Linked DNA regions of Homo sapiens. The protein of the gene in region 3 binds, or shares a complex with, the protein of the main gene of each other region. Each region holds a gene or a part of one and is shown on either strand. Other genes may lie near its edges. A codon is read from its position in the direction of its gene.

Region 1 (7,259 bases), on a different chromosome or scaffold from region 3:
TGCCACTACACTCCAGCCTGGGCAACAGACTGAGACTCCATCTCAAAAACAACAACAACAAAAAAAGCTTGGCGCAGTGGCTCATGCCTGTAATCCCAGCACTTTCACAGGTCAAGGCGGGCGGCTCACCTGAGGTCAGGAGTTTAAGACCAGACTAGCCAACATGGTGAAACTTATCTCTACTAAAAATACAAAAATTAGCTGGGCATGGTGGCGGGCACCTGTAATCCCAGCTACCCAAGAGGCTGAGACGAGATAACAGCCTGAACCTGGGAGGCGGAGGTTGCAGTGAGCCGAGATCGCGCCATTGCACTCCAGCCTGGGCAACAAGAGCAAAATTCTGTCTCAAAAAAAAAAAGAATTCATACAGCTTATAAGTTGCAGAACTAGAGAAAGAGTCAAACCTTTTCTGAGATTCCAGACCCTGCACTCTTAATTACCAAACAACACTGTCTCATCTTTGGATCCTTCACCTGTCCATCCTGTAAGTAACCTCCTGTAAGTAACCAGATCCTATGCTTTCTTCTCTTCCACATTTATTCAACAGTAACTACACACCTACTGTATGCCAGACATAAAAGAATTCAGGAATGAATAAAACAGAATCCTTCAAGGAGCTCATAATATAGTGGAAAAGGCCAGGTGTGGTAGCTTATGCCTGTAATCCCAGCACTTTGAGAGACCCAGATGGGCGGATCACTTGAGCCCAGGAGTTTGAGACCAGCCTAAGCAACATGGTGAAACCCCATCTCTACAAAAAATACAAAAAAATAATAATAATAACAAGTAGGGTTGGTGGTACATGCCTGTAGTCCCAGCTACCAACTACTTGGGAGGCTGAGGAGGGAGGATGTCCTGAGCCCGAGAGGTCAAGGCTGCAGTGACCCATTATCACTGCACTCCAGCCTGAGTGTCAGAGTGAGACCCTGTCTCTTGAAGAAAAAAAAAAAAAAAAAGAGGCCAGGCATGGCGGCTCACACCTGTAATCCCAGCACTTTGGGAGGCCGAGGAAGGCAGATCACCTGAGGTCGGGAGTTCAAGACCAGCCTGACCAACATGGAGAACCCCTGTCTCTACTAAAAATACAAAATTAGCCAGGCATGGTGGTGCATGCCTGTAATCCCAGCTGCCCAGGAGGCTGAGGCAGAAGAATTGCTTGAACCCAGGGGGCGGAGGTTATGGTGAGCCGAGATCGCACCATTGCACTCCAGCTAGGGCAATGAGAGTGAAACTCCATCTCAAAAAAAAAAAAAAAAAAAAAGAGAGAGAGAGAAAATGTGGAAAAACCGGATATAAACAGGTAATTATGAGATAAGAAATGCTCTTAGTAGGGTGTAGAGGAAGAAGGGCCTAATACTGCCTCAGGTTTTCAGTTATCCAGAAGAAAACAGGAACCAAATGGCTTCGATTCATTTCAACAGAAAAATAATACGCAGAGGTAACAAATCCAAGCTCTTACAATCTCAGACATGAATTATTACTATCTTTATTACCATTCCCCAACTAGGAAACCTGGGCAAATTAACTTCTCTAAATTTCAGTTCCCTCATCTGTAAAAGGGGGAAAATAACACCATCTATCACATAGAAATAAATGTGAGGACTAAATGAGAAAAGGTATATGTTACCATTTTTAGAAACCTTAACTCTATTCATAAAACACCCATTCATTATGCCGTTCCCCATACCAACATTCTATGGGATAACATCAAAACGTTAGCCTTGGCCAGGTGCCATGGCTCACGCCTGAAATCCCAGCACTTTGGGAGGCCAAGTGAGACTGCTTGAGTCCAGGAGTTCCAGACCAGCCTGGGCAACATAGAAAGACCCTGTCTCTAAACAAAAAACAAAAACAAAAACAAAAAAACTTTAGCATTTAAAGGACACAAAGGGGACTTCTGGGGTGCTGATACTGTTTCTTGAACTAGGTGCTGGCTACATGAGTGAATACAGTTTTTAAAAATTCATTGAACTCTACACTTACTTAATATGCATTGTATGTATACTGTACTTCAGTAAAAAAAAAAAAAAAAAAGTTGTTTGTTTTTTTTTAATCATCAAACTCTGGCCTAAACCTAGCTTCCACCCCATTACTCCCCTGCTTTGGACATTTCACATCCTTGAACGTTTCTTCATCCTATTTACTTTCTGCTACCTGGAACTCTCCTTTTCTCTAATCTCCCTTTCAAAACCCTACATCCTTCAAGAGTCAGCTCAAATCCCACATTCTGGAAAACTGGAAAGGTAGGGGATAGTTTATTCAGGGTCAGAATACTAAGGAAGGAACTGGGTGGACACATAAAGTATACTTTTCATGAATTATTATAACGATTTGTCTCCCTCACTAGCCTGTGCAGCTACTTCAGGCCAACTTCGCTTTCTCGCTGTAGGCGTTAGTATAAAACAATGTTCGGTGAAGAACTTAGTAAGGAACAGTAACAAAAATTGCCCTGCAAGTCCCAGACTGAGAAGAGACGTCTAAAGCACACGCACACTCTCCTCGCTTAAGCAAAATTGGTCCCCTCATCCCGGACCCCCTCACACATAACCTTTTATCCCAGGGAGCACCCCTGGCGATCCCGCCCCAAATCCCAAACTCCTCTGCAAGCCGCGCTCCACAAGCACCTCCTCCTCTTATTCCAACCCTTCCCACAGACCACACTCCTCGGCTCAGGACACTGAATGGGACACGCCCCCTCAGATCCCCACCACTAGGTGGTCCGGCCCCCAGGGCCCAAACCTCACGACACTGTCCCCACGCCCCGGTCCCCACGCCCCCTCCCCTCACCAGCCCCGCCCTCAGGCCCCGCCCTCTCCAAGAACCCCACGAGACAGTCAGTTAGTTCTCTAGGAACCGCGCGCTGGCGGTCACTGCCCCCGCCTCCCATTCACAGAGGCCGCGGGAGGGCAGGTGGGGCCTGACAGTCTGCTCGAGCCAGTGGCCTCACCTCTCTTCCAAGAGCTCAGTGGGGACACCACCTCCACCCGCTCGGAAATGAACTCGGCCAGACTGGAGCGGAACAAGGCCGCCCGCACTGTCACAGCCACCACCAGCACCAGGACCAAGGGAGCCGCCATGATAACTGGGGCGGGCGCGCGGGCGGGGAGGGAAGGCGAGGCGGAGGAGCCTCGCGCGCTGTGCGCCACGCTCTGTAGTTCCGCGGGTGGGCGCGCGCTGCCGCTGGCGCCGGAGAGGCCAGACGTGGGGACTACGGCTCCCAGAAAGCCTTGCGGCGAGGCGGGCCGGAGCGACGGAAAGCGGGCGCCTCAAGCTGCGTATGCAGAAGGTGGGGCGAAACCTTCTACGATCGCAGGTGTTTTGTGAAGCCGCGCCGCTATAGCGGGGCTGAAACGCTGCTGAAAGTAGAAGCGGAAGTAGTCGCCTTCCTGGGATTGTGAGAGACTTTTAAACAGATGTTAAATTCACTCTTGCGTGTATGTTTTCAATGCCAAAATGTTTATTTTTATTTTTATTTTTATTTTTTTTGAGACGGAGTCTCGCTCTGTCGTCCGGCTGGAGTGCAGTGGCGCGATCTTGGCTCACTGCAACTTCCGCCTCCTGGGTAGCTGGGATGACAGGCGCCCACCACCACGCGCGGCTATTTTTTTTTTTTTTTTTTTTTTGTATTTTTAGTAGAGATGGGGTTTCACCATGTTGGCCAGGTTGGTCTCGAACTCCTGACCTCAGGTGATCCGCCCGCCTCGGCTTCCCAAAATGCTGGGATTACAGGCGTGAGCCACCGCACCCTGCCCAAAATGTTTATGTTTTTTGTTTTTGAGACAGGGTCTCAGTGCCGTCGCCCAGGCTGGAGTGCAGTGGCGCAATCTCAGCTCACTGCAGCCTGGACCTCCCGGGCTCCAGAGTAGCTGGGACCACAGGTGCGCGCCACCACACCCGGCTAAGTTTTTGTACTTTTAGTAGAGACGGGGTTTCGCCATGTTGCCCAGGCTGGTACCTTTTATGTTTTTAAAGAGTGTTAAATGTGTATTTTTTAAAAAATTTATTCTGGCAGTTGTTTGTTAAACGCCAACTATTTTCCAGGCACTATGTTAGGTTCTACAGATGCGTTTTGGAGTAGTAGACTGATTTATTAGCTAGTTCAACAAGTCGCTTAACCCTTGTGTGCTGAAAAATGTGCTGATTATAGGCTAACTAGGGACAGTTGAGGAAGGCTTAGAAATTTTTTTTTTGTTTTGGAAACGGAGTTTCGCTCTTATTGCCCGGGTTGGAGTGCAATGGCGCGATCTCAGCTCACTGCAACCTCCGACTCCCAGGTTCAAGCGATTCTCCTGCCTCAGCCTCCCGAGTAGCTGGGATTACATGCATGCGCCATCACGCCCGGCTAATTTTTTGTAATTTTAGTAGAGACAGGGTTTCTCTATGTTGGTCAGGCTGGTCTCGAACTCCAGACTTCAGGCGATCCACCTGCCTGCCTCGGCCTCCCAAAGTGCTGGGATTACAGGCTTGTGTCATCGTGCCTGGCCGGAAGGCTTAGAAATTTTGCCAGTCGCTTTTAAACACAGGCATTTTTGAAAATTAAGACATATAAACCTACAGTTAAATAACTTATATTGAAAACAACGGAATACATATTCAACACGTCACTTTCTAATTATTTTACTACACTTTTTTTTATATGTGCTTTTGAGATTATTTACCACCGCTGTATCAGTACAGCAAATACTATCTCTTTCTCTTCCCAAATGGTGGTGTTCAGTTTCCTCAGGTTGATAGATTGAAAATCCCTCCCAATGCGAGTGTTTACACCACAGGAATCAGCAAACACTACAAATCAGGGGTTTGGGGTTTGGAGAGCCCATTGATAAGCATTAAGCAGCACACTTCATTAATTAATGTATAGTAAGTGCTTAAATATTAGCAATAATAATATTAAATGTGCAAGGAAATTTCATATTTGTGAAGAAAAGGAAACAGGCTGGACGCAGTGGCTCACGCCTGTAATCCCAGCACTTTGGAAGGCCGAAGCAGCCGGATCACTTGAGGTCAGGAGTTTGAAACCAGCCTGCCCAACATGGTGAAACCTCGTCTCTATTAAAATTACAAAAATTAGCCAGGCATGGTGGCCTGTGCCTGCAGTCCCAGCTACTCAGGAGGCTGAGGCAAGAGAATCACTTGAACCTGGGAGGCGGAGGCTACAGCGAGCCAAGATAGCGCCATTGCACTCCAGCCTGGGCGACAGAGCCAGACTCTGTCTCAAAAAAAGAAAGAGAGAGAAGAAAGAAAACGAAACAGTGTATGACTGAGAATAACTGCTGGTGTAATAATAAGGGTGGTAACACTAGACAAGGTGATCAGGGAAGACTCTAGAAAGAGGTGATATTTGAGCTGAGACCTAAAGGATGAGAAATTAATCAGAGCCTCCAAGCAGAAGGAACGGACTGAGTGGGGAAAGAGCAAGGTATGTTTGAGGATCAGAAAGAAAACAAGTATGGCTCAAGTGGAGAGAATAGAAGAAGCTGTGGATGGAGAGACGGGGGGCAATCAGGTAGGGACCTATTGGCCATGCTTGAGAATTTGGGCTTTATTCAAAGTGCAATCCATATGCCATTGGAGAATTTTAAACCAGAAATGATGTGAACAGGTGTACATTTTTCAAACATCTCTATATTCCCACAAGCCCTCTATTGGGTGTTGGGGAATATTGCAGTGACAAAATGGCACCATCTGCCTTTGCCCTTATGTAACTTGGAAAGCAGTTGAAGAGATAAAATAGTTAAAGAATAACATAAGTAAAATCACAAACCATAACTCCAGCCTGGGCGACAGAGCAAGACTCCGTCTCAAAAAAAAAAAAAAAAAATCACAAACCTTAATGAGAGAAAGAAAAGGGGGAGTGGGCCAGGCGCAGTGGCTCACGCCTGTAATCTCAGCACTTTGAGAGGCCATGGCGGGAGGATTGCTTGAGCCCAGGAGTTTGAGACCAGCCTGGGCAACATGGTGAAACCTGTCTCTACAGAAAACATAAGAATTACCCAGGCATGGTGGCGCATGCCTGTAGTCTCAGCTACTGGGAAGGCTGAGGTGGGAGAATCACTTGAGCCTGGGAGGTTGAAGCTGCAGCGAGCCAAGATCACGCCGCTGCTCTCAGGCCTGTACGACAAAGCAAGACCTTGCCTCAAAAAAAAAAAAAAAGAAAAAAGAAAAAAAATGGCCGGGCGCAGTGGCTCACACCTGTAATCTCAGCACTTTGGGAGGCCGAGGCAGGCAGATCACTTGAGGTCAGGAGTTCGAGACCAGCCTGGCCAACATGGTGAAACCCCGTCTCTACTAAAAATACAAAAAATTTAGCTGGGCAAGGTGGCGGGCACCTGTAATCCCAGCTACTTGGGAGGCTGAGACAGGAGAGTCACTTCGACCCGAGGATCGGCGGTTGCAGTGAGCCGAGATTGCACCACTGCACTCCAGCCTGGGCGACAGAGCAAGACTGTCTCAAAAAAAAAGAAAAAAGAAAAAGAAAAAAATGGGAGTGGGATTCTAAAAGAATGCAAAAATAAACCCTGGGGCTGATAGCTTTCTGGACCAGTGAAAGGGGTAGGGTCTCCTTTGGGGGAGGGGATCATGAAGAAATTAGAGGGGCACTCATCCTTTGAGCCCCTGCTGTGTGCCAAGTAGTGTACCATATGCTTAACACACATGAGCTTATTTAGTCTGCACAGCCTTCCTTCTTAAAGATGTGGGTTTTTGTATCCCCTTTTACATAAAAGGAGATATATGTGTTGCATCATCTTACAGTGAAGTGTATTACATCATAAAAAGTGGAAGTAATTGTAACACTAACCTCATAGTGAATATTGAGCAAGGTTATACAATGTAAAATGCTTAGCACATACCCAGTGCTCAGTAAAGGTTACTTAGCTGTTATATTATTTACATCATTCTAACAGATGACTTAAAAATTTATCTTAGGGTGAGGATTGTCTTTGGGAAAAACAGTGATTAGCCATTGTAGACAGATGTGACCCAAACCAGTGGTTCTCAAAATGAGTGTGCATGAAGTATGAATACAACTAGTGGTTCTCAATAAAAAAACACAAGACCCAAATACAGAAGCTAGAATTATAAAACTCATAAAAGAAAACATAGGAGTAAACTTTTATGACCTTTAATTAGGCAATGGTTTCTTAGATAACAACACCAAAAGCACAGGCAACAAAAGGAGAAATAAGTAAATTGAGCTTTGTCAAAATTAAAAACTTCTGTGTTCCAAAGGACACCATCAAGAAATGAAAACTGCTGGG
Region 2 (7,200 bases), on a different chromosome or scaffold from region 3:
CTCCTTTTCCCTCAGTTTCCTGCTTCCTCAGCCTGGGCTAGATCCTAAGTCCCCTGTGTGTGCAGGCCCCCAATACTGTGCCATCTCTGCATGCCTTTTCCCAAGGAGAGAAGGGAGTCCTACTCCCAGTTGGGACTGTCCAGACTGTGGTGCTAGAGGTGGTGTGGGGAGCAGGAGGGTCATTCCCATCTCTGGAATGTGGATCCCGAGGGGTCAGAGCCCAAGGCCCACCCCAGACAGACCTCTGTCTCCCTCAGACACTGACCACTACTTTCTGCGCTATGCTGTGCTGCCGCGGGAGGTGGTCTGCACCGAAAACCTCACCCCCTGGAAGAAGCTCTTGCCCTGTAGTTCCAAGGTGAGGCCGCAGAGCCTGGCAGCCGGGGGCGGGGGGTGTATAGAGAACCTGCGCCCCATGCCAAGTGCTCCATACAGGGCTTCTCTTATCTCTTTCCATCTCCTCCAGGCAGGCCTCTCTGTGCTGCTGAAGGCAGATCGCTTGTTCCACACCAGCTACCACTCCCAGGCAGTGCATATCCGCCCTGTTTGCAGAGTAAGTCATGGGGAGTAGAGGAAGCTGCCATCCAGGGGCTCAGAGAAGGTACATGTAAAGCATGTGGTCAGTGTCTGGCTCAGGCTGAGTGAGTACTGAGTGGTAGATGTGATGACGGTTATTCAGGGCATTGGCCAAGCACCAAGAAAACAGTGGTTGCCTAGCAAGCACTGAATAAATATTTGTCATGGAAAATAGTGGTTCAGAACAATAGCTATGCGGGTGCAATTGCTAGCTCAGTCACTTGCCAGCTGGCGTAACCTTGGGTGAATCATTTCATTCCCCTGAGCTTGGTTTCCCACCCTGCCACATGACATTGATAGTAGAATCCACTCCTAGGGTTGTTGTGATAGTTTATCAAACTGATGCACATACAGCTGTCAGCACGGGGTCTGGCACGAGGTCAAGTGCTCAGGAGTGGGTGGTAGCAAATCGATGGATGTGAAGATACATAGATGAGGGATTGAGTCTGAGTAGGAGTCTTTTTGGGGGCTGTGTGGTGAGAGTGATACCCCCTCACTGCTGCCATCTGGCCCTTGTGATAGAATGCACGCTGTACTAGCATCTCCTGGGAGCTGAGGCAGACCCTGTCAGTTGTATTTGATGCCTTCATCACGGGGCAGGGAAAGAAAGGTAAGTTACCTTGGCAACTCATCTGTACCCACCCATGCCAGCCCTGCCTTATCTATGTGGACTAGGCCTAGGCCTGGCCCCTGCTCAGCCCTGCGCTCTGTTTCTCAGACTGGTCCCTCTTCCGGATGTTCTCCCGAACCCTCACGGAGCCCTGCCCCCTGGCTTCAGAGAGCCGAGTCTATGTGGACATCACCACCTACAACCAGGTAACAAGGTCTCCAGCCACACACACAAACACACCGCTGGTCCCCAGGACCAGCCTACCCTCTCTGCTTGCTTCTTAGCCCTGCCTTTGTGTCCCCAGGACAACGAGACATTAGAGGTGCACCCACCCCCGACCACTACATATCAGGACGTCATCCTAGGCACTCGGAAGACCTATGCCATCTATGACTTGCTTGACACCGCCATGATCAACAACTCTCGAAACCTCAACATCCAGCTCAAGTGGAAGAGACCCCCAGAGAATGGTGAGTGGGTGGTTGGTTGGACTGCTGGGTTGCAACGGCTACAGAGAAAAGACTCACAATCCCACGTCTTTGCCGTTAGATGATTGGGTTGTATTTAGACCAGATTTCCAGAGTCATATGCTGCTGACTGTAGCTATTCCAAGCTCTACGATTTTGGGTAGGTTCCTAAACTCCCCAAGCTTCAGCATCCACATCTGAAAAATAGAGTATACTTAGCAAATTGGATGAGATGATGTGAAAAATGGAGTTAGTTCATGCATTTGCTTAATCAACCAAATACTTTTGAATTCATACTAAGTGCCAGGCATAGAGTGTTGAATAAGACAGAGGACACTGCACTCAAGAAATATAAGTCTACTAGCTAGGGCAGGTGTCAGTTAATTAATTACAGTTGTGTTCAGTTCCCTTACCAAGGGAAAGAGCAGAATATCCTGAGAGGACCTGGATTGGGTTCGAAGGGGGCACGGTGTTCGTCACGTAAGCACTTCAATACTAGCAACCTATTGTCATCATCGCTTGTTGGCTGGGGAAGACAGGGATGATTCCAGAACCCAGATTGCCCAGTTTCAGTGGCAGGGCTGTTCCCCATCTACTCACTGGCTTGGGACTCTGAACATGGCCTGGGCAGGTGGGGTGGGGAGTGATTCTTACCTTTGGCAGCTGTTAACTGTTGATATTTCTTTACACAGAGGCCCCCCCAGTGCCCTTCCTGCATGCCCAGCGGTACGTGAGTGGCTATGGGCTGCAGAAGGGGGAGCTGAGCACACTGCTGTACAACACCCACCCATACCGGGCCTTCCCGGTGCTGCTGCTGGACACCGTACCCTGGTATCTGCGGCTGTATGTGCACACCCTCACCATCACCTCCAAGGGCAAGGAGAACAAACCAAGTGAGGACCTGAGTCCTGAACCAGGCCCCCAGCCCGCCCTCTCATGTCCTCTCCAGGTCCCCCAAACTCTCATTTCCCAGGGTAGTTCCTGAAGTACCTCTGAAAAGCTACACAGGCATAAAGAGTAAGGAATAGTTTCTCAAAACTGGAACGGGAGCCTCACTGTGCCAGGTTCAGAAGTAATTTATAAAACAGCAATAATTAAAACACATAATACTGGTGATTCTTAATAGGACTGTACAAGGACAGTAGCTTCCTTTTTCACTTACTTTTGCCTCCTTTCTGGAGCATTGGGTTTTGTGATGATTCATAGACTCTTTAAGGTAGGGAAAGGGTTTGGCAACGTTAGGCTTTTGAAGCTAGGAAGATAGCAGAGCTGGAGTAGATGGTGTTTTGCTTCCTTGGGAGGGGTAAAGAGGTACAGTTAATTAAATTTTTTTATTTCTATTTTTATTAAAATTTATTTTTATTTTCTATTATTTTTCTAAGGAGAAGATAATATTAGTGCTTCCTATTAGGTGCCAGGCATAGCACTAAAGCACTTGCCTTTCTTTGGTGTAGGGGGAGACTAGTAGTAAAGTAAAAGACCTCTGAGGAAGAGGTTGTACCATATCCCAAACGGCCAAACTTAAAAACCTTTCAGTACTTTAGTTGATTCCTATATTTTCAAACATACGGTGAATAGTTTCACTTATTTTCAGCACCATTATTTGTACCACCTTCAAAATCTCTATTTCAGACATCCTAACTGCATATTCTATAGGTTTTTCTGTTATTATTCTTTTAAATCTTCTCCTTTGGAAAATTTCAAACCCAAACCCAAACAGAATAGTGTAATAATCCCCTGTACACACCCTGCAGCCTTTTTTTTTTTTTTTTAAGAGACAGACTGTTGCTCTGTCAGCTATGCCGGAGTGCAGTGGCATGATCATGGCTCATTGCAGTCTCAGACTGCTCGGCTCAAGCAATCCTCCTACCTCCGCTTCCCTAGGACTACAGGCATGAACCGCCATGCCTTTAATTTTTTCACAGAGGCAGGGTCTTGTTATGTTGCACAGGCTGGTCTCAAACTCCTGGCCTCAAGCGATTCTCCTGCCTCAGTCTCCTAAAGTGCTGGGATTATAGGTGTAAGCCGCTGCCTGCTGGCATATCTTAAAGCAAATCTTAGACATTGCATCAATTAACCTTTAAATACTTTAAGGATTTTTAAAAATGTAACCGTATCATTACCACTTCTGTTTTCCCCTGTGGTCTTAAAAATGTCTTTTTATAATTGGTTTGTTTAAATTGGGATAAACAAGGTTCTCACATTGCATTTGCTTTATACTAAGTTCCTCTCTTGGGTGGGCACAGTGGTGCACACCTGTAATCTCAGCACTTTGGGAGGCCAACACAGAAGGACCACTTGAGTCCAGGAGTTCGAAACCAGCCTGGACAACATTGTGAGGCTCCCCCTACCTATACAAAAAAAATTTTTTTTTTTTTTTTTTTTTTTTTTTGAGACGGATCCTCACTCTGTCACCCAGGCTGGAGTGCAGTGGCGCGATCTTAGCTCACTGCAACCTCCACCTCCCGGGTTCAAGCGATTCTCCTGCCTCCACCTCCCGAGTAGCTGGGACTACAGGCGCGTGCCACCACGCCTGGCTAATTTTTTCTGTTTTTAGTAGAGATGCGGTTTCACTGTGTTAGCCAGGGTGGTCTCGATCTTCTGACCTTGTGATCTGCCCGCCTTGGCCTCCCAAAGTGCTGGGATTAAAATAAATTGTTTTTAATTAGCTGGGGGTGGTGTTGCACGCCTGTAGTCCCAGCTACTCAAGAGGCTGAGGTGGGAGGATCACTTGAACCCAGGAGGTCAAGGCTATAGTGAGCCATGATCATACTATTGCACTTCAGCATGGGCGACAGTGTGAGACCCTGTCACGAAAAAAAAAAAAGTTTCTTTTTCTTTAAAATTACTAGACTATTCTTAGAGCAGTTTTAGGTTTACAGAAAAACTGAGCACAAAGCACAGAGTTCCCATATACTCCCTGTCTCCACACCCAGAATGTCCCTTATTATAAATGTCTTGTCTTTGGTGTGGTACTCTTCAGTCTCTCTTCATCTGTAGCAGTGCCCATGCCTTTTTTTTTTTTTTTTAATGTCATTTATTTGTTGAAGAAACTGGGTCATTTGTTGTGTAGAATGTTCCACATTCTGGGTTTGTCCTTGTGCTAGTGTTTAACACACCCCTCCTCTCCTATATTTCTTGTGTGTTGGTGGTTAGATTTAGAAACCTGATTAGATTCATGTCCCACATTTTTGGCAAGAAAAATTCCCAGGTGGTTCTGTGAACTTCTTCTTGCGTCACATCAGGCACTTGGTGTCTGGTGCCCCAGTTGTAGTGATGTGAAGATTGATTAGCCATCTGCAGCACTCCTAACAACCTCTCTTGATCGCATCCTGGGATCACTGCCCTGGAAACATCCTCTCCCTTTTCTTAGCCCCTGCTTTCTTCCCTTGCCTGCCTGGCTTCTATGCTCCCAAGCCCATCTTCTAGGCACCCAGATTGAGGCTCCATGGCAAGCAGCAGGGACAGGGGCAGCAGGTAGCCTGACCCCAGGAAAGAGATGTGGGTGACCTTGCATGTCTCCAGGTTACATCCACTACCAGCCTGCCCAGGACCGGCTGCAACCCCACCTCCTGGAGATGCTGATTCAGCTGCCGGCCAACTCAGTCACCAAGGTTTCCATCCAGTTTGAGCGGGCGCTGCTGAAGTGGACCGAGTACACGCCAGATCCTAACCATGGCTTCTATGTCAGGTGGGCTCCACCCCCACAGGCCACCTCTCATCCCCCTGACCTACCCTTTCTGCTGCTTACCCCTTGATAGGGCAGCCAGATGGGAACACGGGCCATCTCTCTGCTTCTCTGTAGCCCATCTGTCCTCAGCGCCCTTGTGCCCAGCATGGTAGCAGCCAAGCCAGTGGACTGGGAAGAGAGTCCCCTCTTCAACAGCCTGTAAGTGTGACCACACTCACTGATAACACATCCTCAGCTGCCTGCTGGGCCTTAACACAGGTGACCAGGCTCCTGCAGGGGAGTTCAGGGTAGATGTTACATCTTCCAAAGAGATGTGTAGATTTAATTCAATCCTAATAAAAATCCTGGCAGTCTGTGGAATTTGTGAAGACTTTATAAAATGATTTTAAAGTGCTTCTAGAAGAATACTTTTACTTACAGCCTACATTTACTTCTTGATGCTCTTAAATATTTAATCAAGCACTTATCAAATGCCAAGTGCTTCTGAGAGCACTGAGTGTGCAAGATTAAACAAAACAGACTTGGCCCTGGCCTCCCTTTGCTTACAGTCTAGAAGGAAGATTCTGGTCTAGAGAGTAATGGGGTTAGAGGTTGGGTAGGAATTGATTTACTGGGTTATCTAGGAAGGCTTCATTTAGGAGGTGGCATTTAGGCTGAAACCAGGCTAAGAAAGAAGCAACCAAGCAAAGGCGGGGCCCCTTTCCTCCACCTCAACACCAGGCGTCTCTCTTTCTTTCCTTTCTCTCTCTTTCTTTCTTTCTCTTTCTTTCTTTCTTTCTTTCTTTCTTTCTTTCTTTCTTTCTTTCTTTCTTTCTTTCTTTCTTTCTCTTTCTTTCTTTCTTATTTATTTTTTATTTTACTTTAAGTTCTGGGATACATGTGCAGAACATACAGGTTTGTTACATAGGTATATATGTGCCACGGTGGTTTGCCGTACCCATCAACCCATCATCTAGGTTTTAAGCCCCGCATGCATTAGGTATTTGTCCTAATGCTCTCCCTCCCCTTGCCCCCCGCCCGCCGCTCCCCTTTATCAGGTTTAGAGATTGAGCTATGCCTTCTGTTGAAAGGTTTTGAGCCTAAGAGAACATTGGAAACACTGTGTTGCATTGCCCAATACTGCCGGAATGAGGATGGGGTGAGATGGGGAGGAGCAGCCAGTCCTGTCTCACCGCTCTTCCCCTGACCCCAGGTTCCCAGTCTCTGATGGCTCTAACTACTTTGTGCGGCTCTACACGGAGCCGCTGCTGGTGAACCTGCCGACACCGGACTTCAGCATGCCCTACAACGTGATCTGCCTCACGTGCACTGTGGTGGCCGTGTGCTATGGCTCCTTCTACAATCTCCTCACCCGAACCTTCCACATCGAGGAGCCCCGCACAGGTGGCCTGGCCAAGCGGCTGGCCAACCTTATCCGGCGCGCCCGAGGTGTCCCCCCACTCTGATTCTTGCCCTTTCCAGCAGCTGCAGCTGCCGTTTCTCTCTGGGGAGGGGAGCCCAAGGGCTGTTTCTGCCACTTGCTCTCCTCAGAGTTGGCTTTTGAACCAAAGTGCCCTGGACCAGGTCAGGGCCTACAGCTGTGTTGTCCAGTACAGGAGCCACGAGCCAAATGTGGCATTTGAATTTGAATTAACTTAGAAATTCATTTCCTCACCTGTAGTGGCCACCTCTATATTGAGGTGCTCAATAAGCAAAAGTGGTCGGTGGCTGCTGTATTGGACAGCACAGAAAAAGATTTCCATCACCACAGAAAGGTCGGCTGGCAGCACTGGCCAAGGTGATGGGGTGTGCTACACAGTGTATGTCACTGTGTAGTGGATGGAGTTTACTGTTTGTGGAATAAAAACGGCTGTTTC
Region 3 (7,144 bases):
GATCAGGGCTACCAGCTTCAGTGCCATCCAGCCCCTGTCTGGGGCCTGTGTGCTTACCACCCTGTAAGACAAAGGACTCAGAGGCAACCCACAAGCTGTCTGCATGTCCAGGGGACCTCTACCCCTGCCCCCAACAACCAGCCCAGCCTCTTACCGGTGGGTATTGTGGGGCAGGGCCAGGCCAGCTGCATAAATCGCCAGCAGTGTCAGCACCACAGCCTCAGCCTCTGCCACTGGGAAGTGCTGGGTGGCAACGTGTTGGCCCAGCACTGGCAGGACATAGAGGGCCAGTCCCATGGCCTGTGAGATCAGCAGAGGTGCCACGAGCGAGGCCAGCCCCACACCCTGCAGGGCACACAGGCTCTTGGAGATGGACCCTGGGGCCAGGGGATCCCCAAAGACCACCACCATCCCACCAGCTGAGGCTAAGTTGCAACACTAAACACCAGTCAGACCCCAGAAGCCCATTCCAACAACAGAAGGGGGTGCCATCACCTGTGATGGGGGAAGGGGTACACTGGGGCCAGGGGCACCCCCGGGCTCCTCAAGGCCCATTCCAGCCTCATGCAGCTGCATCCACAGTTCCAGAGCGTAGCCCAATCAAGGACCCCAACAAGAGGTGTAACGGGATCTGCCCAGAGGGGGACCCAGGGCTCACCCCCGTACCCCACCCCCCATCAGGATGGAAGACTCTCCCCAGCCTAGAGTTGAGGAGACTGGAGGCTGGTCACAGGTAGATGGCAAGGGGCAGAGGATATCTTGAGACCAAGGACCAGGAGCAAGAAGCCGACAGCGGGCATGTAGAGGCCGATGGAGACGAAGCGGGAGAGGCCGGGGAGCAAGTAGAGGAAGAAGGACTGGTGCAGGCGCTCCAGGAGGTGGTTGAGCTTGCGGAACATGCCCTCCAAAGCCCTGTCAGGTGTGGGGCAGGTTCACGGCTGGCCAGAGCCACCAGGCCATCCCCCACTCCGCTCCAGCTAGACCCCATCCTGGGCATGGAAAGGGGGGACCAGAGACTACTTACTTGCCCACTGCCACCAGGTCATACTTGTACTGGCGGAAGCTATTGATGCCACGCAGGGTTAGGGCCTCCACACGGTAGCGCAGGAAGAGGCCATGGGAGCCGTGGGGGCGGCCGGAGGCCTGCCGCAGAACCATGAGCAGCAGTGTCTGCAGGCCCTGCAGCGGTCCATCCAATGATGTCCAGTCCTCGGGCTGCAGCTTTAGAGGTGCAGGACAGGATGAGACAGCCCCTCCCACAGACCCTGTGCCCTTCAGCCCTCAGGCAGGCAGGCAGCCCCACCTTGCCCTGAAGCGTGCACAACAGGCCCCCTTTCTGGCAGAAGGTCTGGAAGAGATTGAGCAGGTCAAGGTTGGGCAGCTGCCCGTTAAGCCCCTCCACGGCCACATCGAGGCTGGTGACCACATCACTGCTCAGCTCCAGGGCCACGGCTGCCTGAATGGCCCCAGCTCGGCCCTGCAGGGGAGACGACTGCATGCCTGTAGGAGCAAGTGAATGAGTGCTAATGGAGGACGTGGTGAGGACAGTGACCCTGAGAGGGGGACCAGGGCAGGCAGGACAAGAGAACCTACCAGTGACATTGACATCGTGGTAGGCTTCAAGCCAAGCCTCAGTGCCCAGAAGGTCATGTTCTGTTACCAGGAAGACGATATCTTTGGCCCAATAAATCTGCCCTGGAGGCCAGAAGCAGGATCAGCAGGGTCTGGGGCACTGACCAAACCCCTCCACGGCCAGCAGCCCTGAGACTCACCCCGGAAGTGGGCAGCCAGTGCCAGCAGCAGCCCCACAGCCTGGCTGTTGGTAGAGTCAGAGCCACAGGGCACGGTGAGCACAAGCGACTCGGTGCTGGCAGCACGCGGGGCCCGCAGGATGCCGTACACGTTGGTGCCCGACACCATCTGTATGCAGCATCGGTGGGGGGAGCCTCAGTGTAACTTTGTGGTAGGGGGCTGAAGGGCCCCCCACAACTTTCCTAGCCCTCCAGTGCCCACCAGGGATTTCCCTCCCACTGAGCTTCCTGGCCCCATGACACCCCCGCAAGGTGATACCCAGCCCAGACCCCTCCCTCCAAGGTGCTTTCTGGGCCCAGGCACACCCCACTCCCCCAGTACATAGCGCTCGTGGGTCTCATCTGGGAAGGGCAGTTTCCGGGAGAAACTCTGCGTGTAGACCTCCAGCCCTACTGACCGCATCGTCCGTTCAAGCCAGGCCACTGGCAGAGCCCTGCAGACACGAAGGGAGCCTCTGAGCAGAGCTCCCCGGCCTTAGCCACCACTGCTCGCCCCATACGCCCTGCTCTGCCGCTCACCCCGACTTCTTGCGGTGGGCGGCGAAGTCCCGGGCAAAAGCCCGGGCACGGTCTCCGCCCGCAAACTGCTCCTCCACCATGGTGGAGCCCATGGCGTTCTCCGACATGTAAGTGCGCTGGGTCAGCGGCGGGAAAACCAGCGCCAAGAACCAGGCGATGCCCGCCACGTAGCTCAGCACGCTGTGAGAGAGGACGGAGGGGCACCGGAGCGTCAGCGGGTCCTCAGACGCCGACCCGAGGCCACAACCTCCGCACCCGGGGTCGATCGCGCGGGTCTGGGAGACCTAAACCCGGAGTCCTGCATCGGGACGCCGGACCCGAGCCCTAAGCCTGGGCCTGATACCCTCAGTGCTTCCAGAGGGCAGGAGCGGAAGGGCGCGAGCAGCCGGAGGGGCGCGAGCAGCTGGAGCGGCCCCGGCCCTCGATGGGGACCGCGCATGGGGCCGCCGGCGCGAGCCCAGGGCCCTCGGGTCCCCGCCTCCCCGGGCCCTGTCCTCACCACAACGGCGCGTTGAGGCGCAGCACTAGGCGGGCGAGCGCGCGCCGGCGAACCGGGTCCGACAGGAGGCCCATGGCGGGGCAGGGCGGCGCGGCTACGGACCCTCTCCCGCCTCCAACTACCGCCGCGGTGCCCACAGGCTGCTCCTGTCAGACCCGGGGACCCGCGCTCGCCCGCACTTCCGGTCCCAGAGACGCTCGCGACGGCGCGCATGTCCAGAGCAGAGGGCGCGCCCCTAACACTGTGTGCTGCCGGCGCGCAAGCGCAGAGCCGCGGCCGGCTGGAGGGTGGGCGGTGCCGGTGAGGCCGGCAGGACCTGAGCGGGTTTGGGAGTCCGCTAGGCGCTGCCCCCACTAGAGTCGGACTCGCAGTGCACCCCCCGGGAGGGAGGCAGGTAGCCCTACAGCCGGAGGACAGCAGAGATGCCCGACAGCAGGCCGAGCTGGTCGGGGGCTGCGAGATAGCGCCGGCTGGAAGGCCCGCAGGAGTCAGAGGTGATGAGCCGGGCAGGTGGGTGGAAAGCCGGCGGCGGTCAGAGAATGGATGCCAAGCGAGACTGCCAATGACTCAGGACGTCCCAGTGGAGTCACAGCGTGAGCCCAGCACCGAGGTTTTCAGAGTCAGATGACTGCAGAGAAGATGCTGATGGCACTACTGGCCAAAACGGGCTTCACTGGAGCTGGGGTGTGTGCATTATAAAGTGGGGGATCATACTGTCACTGTCCGGGCCAGGAGATCCGTGGAATATTAGGGGAGAAGCAGTCCCAGGGTCCAGACTGCAGGGACTGGTAGTCGGGGCTCGGTGGGCCAGAGGTGAATGAAGGGGGAGTTTGCTCAAGAGGGTGCACTTTGGGAAGGTGAGGTGGGTGGATCCTTTGAGATCAGCCTGGACAACGAAATGAGACCCAGTCTGTACACACAAAAAAATTCCTTTTAAATTAGCCAGGTGAGTGGGGCATGCCTGTAGTCTCAGCTCAGGAGGCTAAAGTGGGAGGATCACTTGAGCCTGGGAGATCCAGACTGCAGTGAGCCGTGATCACACCACTGCACTCCAGCCTGAGCACAGAGCAAGACCATGTCTCAACAAACAAAATAGTGGTGGGCAGAGAGAAGGGTCAAAGCTGAAGACTCCATGTGAGAACAAGTTTTTTTTTGTTTTTTTTTTGAGACAGAGTCTTGCTCTGTCACCCAGGCTGGAGTGCAGTGGTGTAATCTTGGCTCACTGCAACCTTCAACTCCTGGTTCAAGTGATTCTCCTGCCCCAGCCTCCCTAGTAGCTGGGATTACAGGTGCCTGCCACCACACTAATTTTTGTGTCTTTAATAGAGATGGGGTTTTACCACATTGGCCAGGCTGGTCTCGAACTCCTGACCTCAAGTGATCCATGAGAACAGGTAATTTTTGTACTTTTATTTTTTTTTAGATGGAGTCTTGCTCTGTCGCCCAGGCTGGAGTGCAGTGGCACAATCTCGGCTCACTGCAACCTCCGCCTCCCAGGTTCAAGAGATTCTCCTGTCTCAGCCTCCTGAGTAGCTTGGATTACAGGCATGTGCCACCACTCCCAGCTAATTTTGTATTTTTAGTAGAGACGGGGTTTCGCCATGTTGGCCAGGCTGGTCTCAAACTCCTGACCTGAAGCAATCCGCCTGCCTCAGCCTCCCAAAGCTCTGGGATTACAGGCGTGAGCCACCATGCCTGGCTGTTGTACTTTCAGAGCCCAAGGTAAGCAGCAGGAAAAGCCCAGGGGGCTCCAAACCATAGTCCAGAGGTTGTGGGACATGGCCCCCACATCCCTAGGGTGGGTACCCAGAGCCAGCTGAGTTCTTCCTCAGCCCTTTGCTCAGGGCCCCCGATGTGCTGGAATAAGGGTAACAGATTCCTCAGTCTAATGGCCTGGCTCATCTTGCCAGGCCCTGCCTCCTGCTCAGCTGCCTTGAGTCCTTACTGGGACATGCTGCTTTTTCCACCCAGGGCCTCCCCTACAGAAACCCCCTAATCCACTGTTCTCTTCAGGGTTTGAATCAGGCTACACAGAGATAGGCCGTTCATGTGTGGGCGAGGGTCCCTAATCATCCCCAGGAGCCAGCACCAGACCAGGCTCTGCCAGCCTTCACATGGCTCTGAAGTGCTGTTAGGTGATAACGTACAGTGAGGGGTGTGTGGGCAGAGGAGGGTTTTATTCTGGACATGGGTGGCTGGGTGGTCAGTCCCCCAGCAAGATAGAGGCCTCACGCACATGCTGCCGGACCACTCGATCTAAGAGGGTGTGCACATCTCGGGCAGCCTGGGCAGCAGCCTCCAACACCCGCTCCAGGTGGTCCTCGTGCAGCCGGGCATCCATCTCAAGCAGCGCAATCTGTCCTGAGGCTGGCAGCAGGGCCAGGGCCAGCTGGGGGCCACCAGCTGCTTCCTCCACATGGCTGAGGTCCGCCAGGGCTGTGCCGTCCACGAAGCCAGCTGAGCACGCACACACAAAGTCTCTCATGGGTATCCCGGCATCCAGCACTGCCAGCGTGGCTGCATTCACACAAGCTGCATAGGTCCCACCATCTGCCTGTAGCACCTGCAGGGAACCCAGGGTGTCAGTCTATCAGACTCCCTCCCCAACCCCATCACACCCTTCCCTCCCTGGATTGACGGCTGCAGCTGGCTCACCTGCACATAGATATCAATCTGGGAGCGTGGGTGCAGCTGTGTGAGGATGGCTGCTTCGAAAGTCTGGCGGAGCTGCAGGCCCATCTCACAGGACTTACGGTCCCCATGTGGCCGTCGCTTGCGCTCACCTGTGCTGAAGGTCGCTGAACTATATTGACAGTTCACTAGGGCCCTGTCCGGCAGGGCTCGAGCCCGGGAGCCCCGGATCTGGAAGAGGACAGACACATGAGCCAGGCCCACTCCTTCCAGCTCACACTCCACTGTCCTCTGTGGGTCTGCCTCTCCCTCCACTTTCAATGCCTCAGCAAGGGGCAACTGCGTTACCTCCAAAACAAAGCCCCCTGTTTTGCGCTCTCTGTCTTGCATGTGTCGCCCTCTGGCACCTTTTAATTGGCTTCCTTGTGTCCATCCTTGCCCCATTCCCTGCCAACCCAAGTTTACAAACATCAACGCTGCTTCTGTCTCACCTACACACTCAAATCCTAACTACCTTACAAAGGTTTCACATTACATATGAAATAAGATCCCAAATCATTTCCCTACTCTACAAAACCCTAAGTCCTCACCTCCCCGGGAACCCTCAACCTGATTTGGAGTTATCCCCTCTTTCCCCACCAGCAGTCTTTCTGCTCTGCATAAGTGCCTTGCTTGTTTTCACCACCGTGGTCTTCGCCCTTCTGGTTCCCTCCGCCTGGAAAGCAGAGCTCCCACACTCATGCGCTAAGCAAACACTCTTTCAATACCTTCGCTGGCCAGGCAGTTACAGCGCTGGAAGCACAGTAATGAAACCAGATAGTTTTATGTAAAGTTCCTTTCTTTAGGAAGCTTATGTTCCAGCGAGGAAACAAAGGGGAAAATGCTTAAGCAAAATAGGCATTTGAGATTGTAGGTGCACAAAACAAAGGGTTTATTGTAGGGCGAGAAGTACCGCGTGGATAATAAGGTCGTCTGGGAAGGAGTGACGTCGGAGTAGAGCTGAAAGGAGAGGGAGCGAGTGGGGGAGTGCCTAGCACGTTGAAGAGCCGCAAAGAGGAAGGAGGGCGCAGGGACAGAGGCCGATGAGAAAGGCAGGACCACCGCGCAGCACACTAAGGACTTGCGTTTACTCCGAGTGAGATGCGGTGCTGAGCATCGGCTGTGTAGACTGAGGCGCGCCGGCCGTTGCCCCTCAAGTCCCCGAGCCAGCGCTCAGCCCGGCTGCCCCGCAGCTCCCACGGCCACACGATTCCCCATCCCGCGCGCCCACTCGCCTCGTGCGGGCCGTAGACCACAGCCAGTGCCTTGGTGTTGCCCTGCTCAATGTAGGCCGAGCCGTCAGCCTGCGCGAACACGCCCATCCGCGCCTGGATCTTGCGCAGCTCCCCGGCGCGCCGCCCGTCCACCCGGTAGCCCTGGTCCGACAAGAGCTCCAGCCCCGCCATGCTGCCCGGCCGCCAGGTCCGCTCTCTGCCTACTTCTCTGAGCCGCGGGAGAACTACAGCTCCCGGCGGCTCCGACCGCCCGGAATCTACGGTTTCCGGAGGTCCGCCATCACTTCCGGTTCCGGGGAACTACAGCTCTCCGCGGCCCTGACCTCCGTGGATCTGCGGTTTCCGGCGTTCCGCTGTCACTTCCTGTCCTGGTGAACTGGAGTTCACCGCGGCCCCGACCTCCCCGGATC
Region 4 (7,421 bases), on a different chromosome or scaffold from region 3:
AACAACGCTATTACTATTTCCGTCTAACAGATGAGGAAACCAAGGTTTAGAGAAGTTAACAACCTTACTCAAATTTACACAAATAAGTGGCAGAATAAGGCTTGAATTCCAGCTCTCTGATCCCAGATTCTATACTCTTGGTCACCCTTTATACGTGTTGCCTATACTATACGTTTACAGTATACCCATATTACTGAACACTGTGTTATCAAATATGAAGAAATCCATGATAAACTGAAAACAATCAAATTTCAAACTAACTTGTGAGGGATAGTCCAATTTTTGTTTAGAAAACAAGAAGTTTGGCTGGGCATGGTGGCTCACGCCTGTAATCCCAGCACTTTGGGAGGCCGAGGCTGGTGGATCACTGGAGGTCAGGAGTTTGAGACCAGCCTAGCCAACATGGTGAAACCCCGTATCTACTAAAAATGCAAAAAATTAGCTGGGCGTGGTGGCAGGCGCCTGTAATCCCAGCTACTTCAGAGGCTGAGCCAGAAGAATCGTTTGAACCCAGGAGGCAGAGGTTGCAGTGAGCCAAAATCGTGCCATTGCGCTCCAGCCTGGGCAACAAGAGCGAAACTCCATCTCAAAAAAAAAAAAAAAAAAGAAAGAAAACCAGAAGTTTGTGTGTGTACAGAGGCTGAACCATACGAAATATCATTTTTTTAAAAAAATGTTTTAACCAGCCGGGTGCGGTGGCTCACACTTGTAATCCCAGCACTTTGGGAGGCTGATCACTTGAGCCCAGGAGCTCGAGACCAGCCTGGGCAACATGGCGAAACCCTATCTCTACTAAAAATACCAAAACAAATCAGCTGGGTGTGATGGTGTGCGGCTGTAGTCCCAGCTATTAAGGCAGGTGGGCTGAGATGGGAGGATCGCTTGAGCCCAATAGGTCAAGGCTGCAGTGGGCCCTGATCGTGCCACCATACTCCAGCCTGGGCAACAAAGAGAGACCCTTTCTCAAAAAAAAAAAAAAAAAAGAAAAGAAAAGTTTTCACCAAGGCTAAAGAACTAAAAAAGTAAATGGCACACAGATGCCTCATGCTCTAGACTCAGCCCAAATCTCCAGTCATTCCCAGTCTTTCACTACACATTCCAGTAAGGCAAAACTGCTCATAGGTCCCCCAATATGCTGATTCACCCCGCCACACTTTCACACAGGAGTATAGTTTGTTGGTTAAAAGCTTGAACACTGGAATCAGTCAGGCCTGGATTTAAATCCCAGTTCCATCTCTTACTAGCTGTGTGACCTTGCACAAGTTAAATTCTCTAAGGCTCAGTTTCTTCATTTATAAAATGGGGATCATATCATTAGAAAGGATTAAATGAGGCAACACATATAAAATGCTTCACCTAGTTTCTGGCACACAGCGAGCAACAACTATCAGCTATCCTTATACTGTCTCATGCTATTAACTTTGCCTGAAATTCTCTCCCTCCTTTTCCCACTTAACCTGAATTCCTACACATCCTTTAAAAATCCGACTTAAGAATTACATCTCTCAAAACTTTCTCTGCCTTTCTTTCCTCCCAGATGGTTAATACTCTTTACTAAGTGCAATCTCTGTTTCTTGTATACTTCTACTGTAATTTATTTTATCTTTCTCCCCTACCTATGAACATCTTGAAACCATTATCAATTTCTTATTCATTCCTAAATTCTTGGTACCTAAAAAAAAGTACCCCAGTAAAGTGTTTAATGTTAAACTGAATAGGGGCTGGGCGCGGTGGCTCACGCCTGTAATCCCAACACTTTGGGAGGCTGAGGCATGCGGATCACCTGAAGTCAGGAGTTCGAGAGCAGCATGGCCAACATGGCATAACCCCGTCTCTACTAAAAATACAAAAATTAGCTGGGCGTAGTGTCGCGCGCCTGTAATCCCAGCTACTCGGGTGGCTGGTGCAGAAGAATCGCTTGAACCCAGGAGGCAGAGGTTGCAGTGAGCCAAGATGGCGCCACTGCACTCCAGCCTGGGCGACAGAGCGAAGCTCCGTCTCAAAATATAATAAATAAATAAACAAACAAACTAAATAGGGCCTATATGCAAATCCAATTTAATTTCAAACTCTGTGTTCTTTCCACTATATCCCACCTCTTCCCCTATACCCTGATGGGCATCAACTGCTTCCGATTAGGTAGCCTGTCTTACGAGTAAAATTGCTATTTAGTGACTGTGAATTTGAAAGTAGTTTTTTTCTGACCAAACACACTGTTCATTCAGAGGTCTTTCAACAGTAAGTTTTTAACTGCGTTTATGGTACACCCCCGCTCCTCCCACCCAACTCAGCTCTGAACTGAGCTCAGAGGCGAAAAGCAGCCCTGATCCCCAGTAACTCACATTTCAGAGGAATCTCTCTTTCATGCACAACGGTGAAGGGCAGCTTCTCCTGGTCGTCCAGGGGCACTGACTCCCGCGTAAACACGACAGTGACAGGCACCATGAGGCGGAGCTACAGGAAGGAGCATCAGGGCCGTCACTGAGTCTCCACCTTGCCGGGGGGGCTGTCCCCCGACCCTCCCGCACAGCAGTCTCACCTGAAGGGCATTCAGGCCACTGATCTGGGAGTAAGGCAACGAGGCCCGGTAGGTCTCCGTGGTCTTCCACCAGAGCGGTAGCCCCAGCACGATGGCCACCGCAGCGAAGAAGAGGGCGGCGCGCTTGCCCCGGGCCACCTCTGAGGGCATGGGGAACCGACTGAGGCGCTGGAAACGGGCTAGGGTACCGGCCCCATCCCCGACGCGGAGAAGCCCCAACCACCGGCCTCCAGGGGCCCGCGTTCATTGGGATCTCCGTGCGAAGGGACCCGGCCCAAGCCTGAAGGGAATCTCGTCTGAAGAGACCCCCGAGCCCCCCGTCCGCGGGACCTCTCGCACACCACAATCCCCACCCCTGCTATTCCTCCCTTGCCATCAGCTAGCTGCAGGCCCCCCACCCGAAGCCCACCGCACCTAGGTGTGTAGCCGCAGCCCCGGCGGCCGCCATGCTAGCTTCCGGCTGCTCCGGCCACCGTGGGGGCAGAGCTTCGTGAGCCTCACCCAATCGGAATCTCTGCAACGAGGGGGCAGGACCGCGGCGGTGATCGGGGCCAATCGCGAGCGCTACTCCAGACCCGCAGACGGGAGCAAGCGGGCGAGGGGTGGGAGGGCTCCGCTGGGAGCTTCGCTGGGGATCTGAAAGGAAGTCACCCGGGCGCGGAGGGACAGCCTAGGGGCCGTGCGGGTTTCGGCGCTGCTGGAACGAAGTTCCCCGCTTCCCTGTAGAACACACTTCTAGCCCCGCAATCAAGAGCGCAACCTCTGCAGTCCTTAAATACTAGCTGGGCAACTACAGGCAGCTCCGAGGCTCATCTGAAAATGGAGATATTTACATAAATGAGGCCGTTCTTGTAAGGAGCCTGGCACACGGAAAGCCCTCAACGTCAACTGTCACGGTCTTATTATCCTTATCGTAGAACTCCTCTTAGGGTGCCCTCTCCTCAAAGCCTCAAACACGGAGGTAGCAAGCTAGTATGTTTTAGCACAATTGGCTCTCTCGCTATTTTAAAATACGTTTTAATTCATTTCCAACTTGGAAAACTCAGAATACTTCACTTAAAAATCTTGAAAAGTCATGAGCCCAGACTCTAGATGCTGATCACTGCGGTTCAAATCCTGGCTTCATCACTTATTAGGTGAGTGATCGTGAGAAGATCGTTCTGTGCCTATCTGTGCCTGTTTTCTCTATTAAAATAGGGATGATAGTAATAGTACCTACTTTATAGAGTTGTATGAAATGTGTCAGTACATATAAAGTGATTAGAACAGGGTTGGTGCTATGTGCAAGCTATTTTTGTTATTATAAAGTCAGGCCACACAGGGTGGAGCATTTGTAGCCTCCCCAGTTGACACAGAACACACGCAGCTTGTTATCTCTTCTTTTTATCTGCTTAGACCCAGGTTCTCAGCCTACCTCACAACCCAGCCCAGTGGTTAAAGTTCAGCATCAGGCCTCACCAGAGCTGTCCTTACCCAGACCCTCCAATTGGCTCCCTTTGTGCCCACTTCTACCCCAAATGAAAATGGGCCATAGCCCTTGGCAACCTCCTAGATGCCCTGCTCAGCCCTGGCAGCCCGCAGAGCCTTGGTTTTCCTCTTTGGGCGGGAGTCCAGGTGCTCGCTTGCCCTTACTGGTGTGGCTCACCCTAGTGGAAGGTACCAGGTCCCAGCTGGGCTTAACACTGCGAGATGGGAGAGACTCCCACCCACTCTTATCCCAGCCTGTCTTGCTGCCTCCCTGCTTTGAGCCTTGCACAAATCTGCCTTCAGGAGTTGCCAGTTTGGCCTCACTCCATACTTCTGTAGCTGCAGCCCAGTGCCACTGATGTGGCAGTCCCTAGAAGACTTGCAGTCTTCCTCATTGCCCCACTCCAGACTTGGACATCAAGAGAGCAAGAGCCTGAGCTGGGGATGGTGACTGCATGTGCCCTTCCTCCATAACTTGAAGCCCAGTAAGACTCAAATCCCACCCTCTCCACCTCCAGAGTCAGAGGGCCCAGAGATAGAATTAGCAGAGATCAGAAACTGGGAGGTGGGAATTTGATGTGTAAAACAGACAGGCAAAGTAGAATGTTTTGCTACCATTTATTTGCTGTATGGTATGTACTCAAGGCATGAGTCAGGGCTTCTGTACTACCCTCTGATCCCAGGAGACAGGGCAGGCAAGAAGGAGAGCCCAGGGAGAAGCTACCTCATCATGGGAAAATTGTGGGAGCTGGAAGAGGTAGGGGGAGACCCAGCCATCCTGTTCTGACTTCTAGCAATTTCTTCTGCCCTCAGTCATGAGGGGCTCCCTATCCTCCCATCCTATGGTCCCAGGTGCAGCAATGAGAGAGGGGAAGGGAAGAGAGAAAGGAAGACAAGTTGGTGCCAGGTGAAGGCATCTCTGCTCTGCATAGCTATTTGGCCCTGGCCATGACTACAAGCAAAAGTGGGTGCAGATGGCTGGGCCAAGGGCTGTGGTATGGAGTGGATACTCAGTAGGCATGGTTGGCAATGTAGAGTGACTGTGCTGCTGCTCCACCATCTTCTCCACTGCCTTCATACTTGCCCTGGGCTGCAAGCCCATTCACCTGCAAAAGGGAGCGTGGAGTAAGCAGGCTGAGCCAGCCCACAGGTGCCAAGCCCTGCCCAGGCTATAGCCTCTGGGTGCTGCCCCCACCCACCACCACCTGTAGCTCCCAACCTCAGCCCGCTTGATGAACTCCTCAGTGGCAGCCCCAGCATTGTCCCGTTGCCCTCGCCAGGCATTGAGTGCAGAGGCTTGCAGGGCACGCCCATAGGAGAAGGTAAGCGCCCAGGGTCGGGGAAGGGGGCAGCGGTTGATGGCATTGAGGTTGAATGATGCCTCTTCTTCGCTCTGACCCCCAGACAGGAAGGTCACTCCTAGTGTGGAGGAGAGAAGACAAACTGACTGGTCACTCCCAATTTTTCCAGGATAGGGAACCCCTGAAGGCCACAAGAAGGACCTGAAGATGGGCCTTAGGGATAGGAGCAGGTTAGGGAGCTGGGTAGTACCTGGGACAGCTGGGGGCACAGTGCGACGCAGGGCAGTGACAGTTGCCATGGCAATCTCCTCTGGGGTATACTTGATGGGACAGGCATGGCCCGGGGTCACCATGTTGGGCTTGAGCAGGGTCCCCTCCAGGTATACATGATGGTCACTCAGGGCCTTGTACACAGCAGCCAAGACCTGGGTGGGGATTAGAGGAGGTTTACTAAGGGTCTGGGCCCCCACTGGTTACTGCTCGATGCTCCCTATGTAGGGGTAGATGGGCACAGACTGTGAGGGCTCAGTACAGGCTCAGATCACAGGCCTGTGCCGGGATGAAGTGAAAAAGTGCTAGGGGAAAGTGTGCCTGGATCTAAGCTGGGGGTTCTGGGGAACAGACACTCCTGCCGAGCTGTCCCTGCAGTATGTTTGTGTGCCCAGGTGTGGACTCACCTTCTCTGTAACATACTGACAACGTTTGAGGTCGTGGTCTCCATCAGGCAATATTTCAGGTTCCACAATAGGCACAATGCCATTCTGCAGGCAAGAGCAGAGATGCTTGGGAGGGGCAGTAGGGGAGATGAAGAAAGCCTTGTGACTCTCTCCCCACCAGGCATACAGGGCACCTAGCTCACCACCCTCCCAACACACACACCTGCTGGCAGATACTGGCATAACGGGCCAGCACGTTGGCGTTCTCCAGAATGGCAAGTGCAGAGGGTGTACGCTCACTGATTTTCAGCACACAGCGCCACTTGGCAAAGTCAGCACCATCCTTCTTGTATTGGGCACAGCGTTCTGAGAGCCCATCCAGCCCTGCAAGCACAGTGCCAACCTCATTACTCTGCCCCTCTTTTACCAGCATCAACTATCTAACACCTCTTTGGTCCTCAAGCCCACCCATCCTATACCTTGAGTGGTGGTTTCTCCATCAGTCCCAGCTAGAGGCACCACACCCTTGTCAACCTGTAGAGGAAGTACAAGCAGAGGGTTGAATCCAGGCAGGATTCTCCTTGCTACCCCTCCTACACAAGCTTATTTTCACACCCAGCTTCCATTCAGAGCAGGGCCAGGGGCTGCACCTTGATGCCCACGACGATGCCCTTATCCTGGATGGTTCGGACGAAGGGAACACCATTATCATCTTTCTGGTAGAGGGTCTCATGGAAGAAAATGACGCCTCCAATGCACTTTTTCACACGGTCATCAGCACTGAACAGGACCTGGCGGTACAGCCGGCGGTTCTCCTCTGTGTTTTCCACCCCAATTTGGCTCAGCCGCTTGGCCATGCTGCCTAGGGGCAAACAAAGAGAGGCAGTGAGAACATCCCCAGGGTCCCCTAGCCACCTGTACCCTACCTGGCTACAGATGTCCACTTACCTACAGACTCATCCGCAGCCAGAATGCCTTTGCCCGGGGCTACAATCCGCAGGGCAATGTCAGACAACTCCTTCTTCTGCTCAGCAGAAAGGGCTGGGTACGAGTGAGGCATGGTGACAGCTCCCTGGAGTGGAGACAAGATAAAAAAGCCAGACCTCACCCTCTGCTGCCTCTCCTGGCCAGATGGGCCAAATGGCCTCCCCATCAAGCAAGGGGCTGGGAACAGGGCAGCAGTCCTTGGCATGAGTCCTGGGCATCAAGTGGCACCAGTCCTTCTGACAGCTAGCAAGCTTAGGGCTCCAGTTCCCACATCTCCTTTTGTCCCTGGTAGGCATCCTTCCCAGCCCTGGGGAAAGATGCAGGGTGGGGGTGGGGAGGTGAGCAGCCCTGAAGCCACAGCTCTTCTGATAAATCTGCTGCCCAATCAAGGATGCCAACCCTTCTTTCACTGAACTTGGTCCCTTGTTGAGGTAGGCAAAAGTCCTGGCCTTTCCAGCTTCCCTTTTCTCA

Evidence for each region.
Region 1: the proteins of GPAA1 (region 3) and PIGU are in contact, whole or in part, in a cryo-EM structure (PDB 8IMX), measured with the Homo sapiens proteins. Residues at the interface, in NP_003792.1 of Homo sapiens: Gln245 (codon at 1,384), Leu310 (codon at 1,107), Arg311 (codon at 1,104), Arg313 (codon at 1,098), Phe358 (codon at 851), Leu359 (codon at 848), Ile371 (codon at 812), Ala389 (codon at 591), Leu390 (codon at 588), Trp393 (codon at 579), His397 (codon at 567), Leu500 (codon at 15), Ile504 (codon at 3), Leu508, Cys512, Leu515, Thr516; in NP_536724.1 of Homo sapiens: Tyr349, Ile355, Phe356, Cys360, Ile363, Val364, Leu367, Leu368, Val371, Leu372, Leu375, Ile377, Tyr378, Ala379, Gly380, Ser381, Phe386.
Region 2: the proteins of GPAA1 (region 3) and PIGT are in contact, whole or in part, in a cryo-EM structure (PDB 7W72), measured with the Homo sapiens proteins. Residues at the interface, in NP_003792.1 of Homo sapiens: Arg97 (codon at 2,211), Ser98 (codon at 2,208), Val99 (codon at 2,205), Gly100 (codon at 2,202), Glu102 (codon at 2,196), Tyr104 (codon at 2,190), Arg134 (codon at 1,887), Ala135 (codon at 1,884), Pro136 (codon at 1,881), Arg137 (codon at 1,878), Ala138 (codon at 1,875), Ala139 (codon at 1,872), Ser140 (codon at 1,869), Thr141 (codon at 1,866), Glu142 (codon at 1,863), Arg171 (codon at 1,776), Gly172 (codon at 1,773), Gln173 (codon at 1,693), Ile174 (codon at 1,690), Tyr199 (codon at 1,615), His200 (codon at 1,612), Asp201 (codon at 1,609), Val202 (codon at 1,606), Leu212 (codon at 1,483), Gln213 (codon at 1,480), Gly214 (codon at 1,477), Arg215 (codon at 1,474), Ala218 (codon at 1,465), Arg311 (codon at 1,104), Tyr312 (codon at 1,101); in NP_057021.2 of Homo sapiens: Gln91, Gly92, Phe93, Arg95, Arg97, Tyr98, Ser108, Phe211 (codon at 503), His212 (codon at 506), Thr213 (codon at 509), Ser214 (codon at 512), Asp247 (codon at 1,156), Phe249 (codon at 1,162), Ile250 (codon at 1,165), Arg340 (codon at 1,641), Gln355 (codon at 2,375), Tyr357 (codon at 2,381), Val358 (codon at 2,384), Ser359 (codon at 2,387), Gly360 (codon at 2,390), Tyr361 (codon at 2,393), Gly362 (codon at 2,396), Leu363 (codon at 2,399), Leu371 (codon at 2,423), Tyr373 (codon at 2,429), Lys441 (codon at 5,265), Asp459 (codon at 5,319), Pro460 (codon at 5,322), Asn461 (codon at 5,325), His462 (codon at 5,328).
Region 4: GPAA1 (region 3) and PIGS share a complex: the UniProt entries of both Homo sapiens proteins name them as parts of the GPI-anchor transamidase complex.

Annotation. Positions count from the first base shown.
Region 1 is NC_000020.11:34,674,009-34,681,267, forward strand, and holds the start of PIGU (GPI-anchor transamidase component PIGU), read right to left. Parts: upstream 3,085-7,259; 5' UTR 3,078-3,084; coding exon 2,948-3,077; intron 1-2,947. UniProt on the Homo sapiens protein: Component of the glycosylphosphatidylinositol-anchor (GPI-anchor) transamidase (GPI-T) complex that catalyzes the formation of the linkage between a proprotein and a GPI-anchor and participates in GPI anchored protein biosynthesis.
Region 2 is NC_000020.11:45,419,038-45,426,237, forward strand, and holds part of PIGT (GPI-anchor transamidase component PIGT isoform 1 precursor), read left to right. Parts: intron 1-257; coding exon 258-358; intron 359-435; exon of another isoform or gene 436-466; coding exon 467-553; intron 554-1,098; coding exon 1,099-1,186; intron 1,187-1,294; coding exon 1,295-1,392; intron 1,393-1,490; coding exon 1,491-1,656; intron 1,657-2,345; coding exon 2,346-2,546; intron 2,547-5,178; coding exon 5,179-5,344; intron 5,345-5,458; coding exon 5,459-5,542; intron 5,543-6,472; exon of another isoform or gene 6,473-6,536; coding exon 6,537-6,789; 3' UTR 6,790-7,200. UniProt on the Homo sapiens protein: Component of the glycosylphosphatidylinositol-anchor (GPI-anchor) transamidase (GPI-T) complex that catalyzes the formation of the linkage between a proprotein and a GPI-anchor and participates in GPI anchored protein biosynthesis.
Region 3 is NC_000008.11:144,078,490-144,085,633, reverse strand, and holds the start of GPAA1 (GPI-anchor transamidase component GPAA1), read right to left. Parts: upstream 3,001-7,144; 5' UTR 2,904-3,000; coding exon 2,830-2,903; intron 2,511-2,829; coding exon 2,331-2,510; intron 2,246-2,330; coding exon 2,134-2,245; intron 1,921-2,133; coding exon 1,773-1,920; intron 1,696-1,772; coding exon 1,594-1,695; intron 1,501-1,593; coding exon 1,304-1,500; intron 1,222-1,303; coding exon 1,025-1,221; intron 913-1,024; coding exon 759-912; intron 592-758; coding exon 496-591; intron 346-495; coding exon 155-345; intron 62-154; coding exon 1-61. Other genes in the region: EXOSC4 (exosome complex component RRP41), read right to left, coding at 5,033-5,392, 5,485-5,691, 6,735-6,905. UniProt on the Homo sapiens protein: Component of the glycosylphosphatidylinositol-anchor (GPI-anchor) transamidase (GPI-T) complex that catalyzes the formation of the linkage between a proprotein and a GPI-anchor and participates in GPI anchored protein biosynthesis. Binds GPI-anchor.
Region 4 is NC_000017.11:28,568,510-28,575,930, forward strand, and holds the start of PIGS (GPI-anchor transamidase component PIGS), read right to left. Parts: upstream 3,016-7,421; 5' UTR 2,988-3,015; coding exon 2,954-2,987; intron 2,680-2,953; coding exon 2,540-2,679; intron 2,455-2,539; coding exon 2,343-2,454; intron 1-2,342. Other genes in the region: ALDOC (fructose-bisphosphate aldolase C), read right to left, coding at 5,017-5,112, 5,226-5,425, 5,558-5,732, 5,985-6,068, 6,187-6,347, 6,443-6,497, 6,614-6,825, 6,912-7,023. UniProt on the Homo sapiens protein: Component of the glycosylphosphatidylinositol-anchor (GPI-anchor) transamidase (GPI-T) complex that catalyzes the formation of the linkage between a proprotein and a GPI-anchor and participates in GPI anchored protein biosynthesis.